Linked DNA regions of Homo sapiens: region 2 is linked to region 1. The links come from fine-mapping of genetic effects on gene expression. A gene starts in region 1. The other region holds a variant in brackets. All regions are shown on one strand. Distances are between the middles of the regions. Region 1 holds the start of TSC22D2 (TSC22 domain family member 2). Region 2 overlaps TSC22D2 (TSC22 domain family member 2).

Region 1 (2,922 bases):
TTGGACATGGTGAAGAAGGCTGGAGGGCAGAGAGGCACGCCGGCTCCTCTGGGTCCTGTCGGAAACCGGGGAGGGCAGAGCACGGGCCCCCAAAGACAAAGTCCGAGTCTGCGCTGGGGTCTGAGGCCCGCCGCTGTTAAGAGTCACGGGCTGATCCAGGCGCTGGCCGCCCGGTGAGACATCCTCCTCCTCGTTTCCTTCTCTGTGTCGGTCTCTTCGGCTCTGCCCCCGTCTCAGTCCCGCGGCGGCTCCTCCTTCCTTTTTAGCTCTCGCAGCCGCGGCGCCTCAATTCAATTCCCTCAGAGGCGGCGAGAGCGCGAACCCAGGGGCGGGCCGGCTGCTTCCTCTCTCGTCTCCGGGCAGCCGTGGTCAGTCCAGCTCGGCGCTCGGCGCGGTCAGCAGGCCTTGGCTGGGGGTGGGAGTGGGAGGGCGAAGAGGAGGAGGAGGAGGCGGTGGCGGCGGCGTGAGGGGCGGTGCTGCCCCGCTCGGGCTCCTCAGGCCGGTGCCGGCGTCAGCGCTGGGCTCTCTGACTGAGGGAAGGAGCGGCGAGTCCGGAGTCGGAGATGCCTAATTCAGCCGGGAGCCGCGGGCCGGAGCTGGCTGAAGGTCCGCGGGCGGGCGGTGGGGCTGTGGCGCGGGCAGGCGGCCCTCCCTCCCCGGCTCTAGCCGGAGCTCAGCCCCAGGGACATGTCGACTGCCTCAGGCGGAAACCCGCTCTGGGGGAGGGGAAAGCCGGCTCGGTCCTCCCCTTACAGGGGGAACCACCCCTGCGGGCGGGCGGCGACGGCGGTCTCGGCCTCCCCTCGCGGCTTCTCTCAGAGAGGGGCGGCGGCGGCAGACCGCTGGCACGGGACCGGAGGCGCCCCGGCTGTGTGAGGTAGCGGTGGTGGCTTCTCCGGCTCCTCCTCGGTGCGCCCAATTCCTAAACCCCGAAGAAACTGAAATTCAAACTGCTGAAGCGGCGGCTGCAGCTCCCTCCGCTGGGCCAAGATGGGGCTGAAATGGCCGCGCCAGGGATGCTGGGAGGAGCAGCAGCCCCGCTGCCGCCGCCGCTGCCGACTAAAATGCCGCCGCTGCCGCAGCCACCGCCAGCGCCGCAGCCGCCGCCGTTCCGTGACGCACCGGCGTCGTGACGTCACCGCTCCGCCCCCTCCGGTTTCCTGCAGTTTCGCGTGGAACCTGGGGTGGGGGGCAATGGGCGGGGCTAAAGGTTAAAAAAGGGAGCGGTTTCTTTATTTAAAATTTTTAAAATTTAAATTTTGTGTTGTAGGTTCTTTAAGCATTGACGAGCTAAAGACCATTTTAAATTCTAAGCCTAGGGAAGCTTACAATGGAACTAATCAGATGTTTTTATGTCGGTTTGTTCCGAGACAGTGGAAGACTGGAGGTCATGTGCTTGTGTCTAATGTTTAGCAAAATCTTAGTGAAACGAGGGCGATAGGAATGGGGGCTGGGGAAGACTTAGATGGGATAAAAAGAGGTGCGGCTGGAAGAACTAAATCACTTTAAAACTTCTGAAAATAAATGTTGACCATTGTAGTCAGAGGAGTAAAATGTTCAGAGAAATGGGGATGATTAAACAAGAACGGCAAGCCAGATTGAGTCAGAAAATTATCTTCCTGCCAGAAATTCTGTCTCCCACAACGGCATCAGGGGGTGGTTACTTGCCCAGGGTGTAGTCAGTTTTTAAAAAGCTTAAGGGTTACCAACATATTCCTAAATTTCCTGAATTTGCTGTGATTCCAGGATTCATTTAAACTCTTGAGACTGTTTTACTTTCGGCACGAAATCAGCTCATGGGCTTTATAAATGTAGAACCTACTGCATTATAGTTCTTCTTTTTGTTTATTCTAAAACTGTTAGTAGCAGCCAGCGTATTATATGATTTGGATTGGGCCATGAACAACCGTAACGAGTGATAAAGCACCCTTTCCTGTTCCAATGCAAAGAACAACTATGAAAAGAAAGTACTGGCAAATTTATCATCTTGTAGTTAGTTCCTGGCCAAAGAAAATGGTAAGGCCATTCTTTTAAGCAGTTAAAAAAAAATGGGGATGGGCTCTTAAACTTTGGCATGCTAAGGCCATTCTTTTAAGCAGTTTAAAAAAATGGGGATGGGCTCCTAAACTTTGACATACTAAAGCAGTCGTCATTTAGGTAAAATCTAAGTCTTAATGGAAATCGTGATTTCATATCTACTGCAGCGTTAGCAATCACATAATGATAACTTAAATCAGTAAATCGTTGAACTCGGTTCTCTAATCTTTGAAGAATAGAAATACTTTTTATCCCAAAAGATGTTTTGAGAATTAAATTTGCAGAGAATTTTTTAGGTCTTTAGTTGTAATTTATAGAGCTAGGTCTTTTAACTTTAGTGGAAACCATGCCCTCCAAACCCAAGTGACTGGAGTCAGAATGTGAAATAAGACGACATAAAATCCCTATTTCTTAAGGGGCTGGGCGAAAGTAATGGAACAAAATGTAACGTTATGCTATTGTGGCAGAGATAGCTAATGGAATGTTTCATTTCTAAGTCTGTAATTTCAGTAATTGTTAGAGGCAGTTTTCCATCAATAAGTTAGATCAAATGGTTAAACCCAATATGAATTTATAAAAGCTTAATTTAATTTTGGATTGATTTACCAGATGTTTAAGGTGGTTATAATGGGTAGTGTTGATGGTGGTGCTTTTGGAAAAATGAGTATTATATGCCTGCTCATCCCTTTACATTATCTTATCATATAAACTTCTTGATTACTCGTTATGATACTCTTAAATCGTACATTTAGAGGAAAAATCTTAAAGTAATCTGTAAGACCATTTCTCCTTAAAATGATATATTATGAGATGAAAGGAAAGATAAAGATAATTTAGAAGAGATCCAGAAGTGGACTAAATTTCTGGTAAGGAGGGGGCTAAAGA
Region 2 (2,922 bases), 57 kb before region 1:
AAGCTAATGCACGCTACCAAACTACTGTTGACAGTTTGGTTAGTATCCTTCCAGACCTTCTCTCTATATAATACACAAATATGTACTTGTAGAAGTACACTATACAGTATTTGTGTGTGTGTGTGTGTGTGTGTGTGTGTGTGTGTGATGTGATTTAACATCACTAGTATCATATGTATTACAGGTATTGTCTTTCAATTTTTCCCCCAAACTTTTAACATTGTCTCCTGGAGATCCTTCCATGCCGGACATGTAGGACTCTCTCTTTTTCATTGATACTTAATACTTCATCATGTGTACCATAGTCCATCCTCTTGATGAGTATTTTGGTTTTTCCAATTTCATAGTATTACAGTAGCTCCCCCATCATGGAGGATATTTTCCAAGACCCTCACTGAATGCCTGAAACCATGAATAATACCAAACCCTCTATGTACTATGTTTTTTTATGATCTGATAATAGAAATGACTAATGGGCATTATAAAATGGGTATATAATGAGTGTATACATTGTGGATACACTGGACAAAGGGATGATTCCTGTCCCAGGCAGGATGGAGAGGGATAGTGAGAGATTTTTATTATACTATGCAGAAAGGTTTGAAGTTTAAAACTTATGTTCGTTTCTGGAATTTTCCATTTAATATTTTTGTATTGTGGTTGACCTTGGATGACTGAAACCTCAAAAAGTGAAAATGCAGATAAGGGGGTCTACTGTACAAGCAAAGGTGCAATTGACATCATTGTACAGGCTATCTTGTGAACACATGTATGTTTCTTTAGGACATTAAAAGTTGGAATTGTTAGGTCACAGGGTATGTGACTTTTAAAATTTAATGGGTGATACACAATTGTCTTTAAAAGAGGCTGTGCCAATTTGTATGCTCACTAGCAATGTATTCCTGTTTTTCCACACCCTTTCCAGCTTTTGATTTGTATGCACGCTAAATATTAGTTGGATCTGAGATGGTTTCTTGTGTTTTAATGTGCACTTCCCTTATTTTGCTGAGATTGAGCTTCTCTTTATAACCTATTTGTAAAGTTCTTTGCTTATGTGCATTTTCAAATGGACAGGGTATATAGCTTCATAGCTTCCAATTTCTAAAAGGGAGTAACCAAAAAGTAGAAGACTAACTGCTAGTCTAGCTAGAATTAATTTTTGTGAAAGATCTAACTTTATATTTCTTCTAAATTGTTATGCTATCCCATACTATTTGTTGAATAATCCATTTTTTCCTTACTAATTTGAAATGTCACTTTTATTACTTACTCAACATATTATTTGTGTTTCTGGATTCTCAGCTGTATTAGAGATTTATTTTTGGTATCAGTCACCTGAGTTATTCTTAACTTGGTTCATTAAATGGTAGCTGATTTTGTCAGCCAAGATAATAAGTGTCACTTGTTGCTTATGAGACAATAGACAATATAATTCATGACACATGAATCCTATTCTAGTTAACTTTGATTTAAATCAATTTCATTATCTACAACTTAGAGTATTAAAAATGTGTAAACTTTTCTCAGATTAGT[T/C]CCTCTTTTTTAGGGAATACTTCATAGGCTCGATGTCGAGGTGGAAGGCTTTTCCCCTCCTTCTAAAAGTATTATTTGATGTTAAAGCTTTCTGGTGATTTAAAGTTGTTTCCTGGCAATATCAAAGGATTTTTACATGGGATGGCAATATTACTGTTGATTTATAAAAACCTTTCATTTAACAAATGATATAAGGTTCACAAACTATAACATATACTCTGAATAAACAATATGGCACTTTAACTTTTACACTTACACTGGACTGAGCTCATTGGAGCACACAAATCATGTCCCATTCATCTTTCTATCCCCAAACATCCAGTACAGGTTGCAGCACCTAAATTGAAATAGAATTAAATTGCATGTCAACATTTTTTTTATAAAATAAAAAAAAGAAACCTAAATTTCTTGAAAACATCACTTTTAGGGTTTTACAAAGTCATACATGTTTCTTTTTATTAGCCACTGACCTGTTATTATTTCCATCTCAAGTGTGGGGAAAATGTTCCCTTGCTGTCTCTGATCTTCCTCAGGTATGATATGACCTATCTATAGATACATTGCATGCCTGTGAAATGACAGCAAGAACTGTGATCCGGATAACATTTGGATTGCAGCAGGCAAGAGTATTTTACAGTTGTTATATGGAAATATTGTAGGCATGCAAAAGAATGGAGAGATGAACTTAACTTTTTTATGGAGAAGTTGAACTGTGGCATTTGCCTTGTTTTAAAATTCAGTTGTTTTTATGATCTAAGTTAGCACACCTTTCCCTTCCCTCCAAGGGGATAAATATGGCTTCTGTGGACAATGTTGTAGTCTGTAAACTTAAATACTATGGACCCATGACAGTAGACAATGGGAAAATTCCCCAAACTGCCTAGTCTATCAGTTTCCCTGCTGAGAATGAAAAATAAAGCTAACTCACTCACCATCCAGGTATGCTGAACAAATTCAACAACTAAATGGACTGCGCCAGTGCAAAATACCAGCGTCTTACTTTGCCATCACCAATCTGAAAATCTGTCTTATTTTTCTTATTTGATGATTCCATGGCGGGGTTCGGGGGGGTGGTGGGCAAGCAAGAATGTCTGTGAACTTTAACTTGCTTCAGAGTGCCTCACTTAGCATTTTCATCTATGAACACAGCATGTCATACCAATTGTACTCCACAAAAGATATAGTTACAGTAGCACTTGTATAAAGTAATCCTTGCAACCTATGAAGGAAAGCCATACATTTAAAGGGATCTTGCTGTAGAAATTCTGTGAACTGGTACAGAAATACAGGACAAAGATGTATCCTGAAATATTGAAAAGGAGTAAATGGGGTGCAAGTATACATCACTAAATAATAAACTATTACTATTGCTAGAAAATAGAAATATGG

What was found. PIP is the estimated chance that this variant, and not a neighbour inherited with it, causes the effect. A credible set is the group of variants that fine-mapping cannot tell apart.
Region 2: its variant is the best candidate, but not a certain one, in a credible set for the expression of TSC22D2 in whole blood (TOPMed, PIP 0.78).

What each region holds. Positions count from the first base shown.
Region 1 is chr3:150,406,437-150,409,358 of GRCh38, reverse strand. TSC22D2 (TSC22 domain family member 2) reads right to left here and starts at 1,061. Exons shown (of 3, transcript NM_001303264.2): 1 at 1-1,061. The coding sequence starts at 8. RefSeq lists a silencer at 371-970.
Region 2 is chr3:150,463,417-150,466,338 of GRCh38, reverse strand. TSC22D2 (TSC22 domain family member 2) reads right to left here. Exons shown (of 3, transcript NM_001303264.2): 3 at 1-2,922. Among named protein-coding and RNA genes, the nearest start is that of TSC22D2, 57 kb to the right of the region's middle. The variant T/C (reference allele first, on the strand shown) is at 1,534.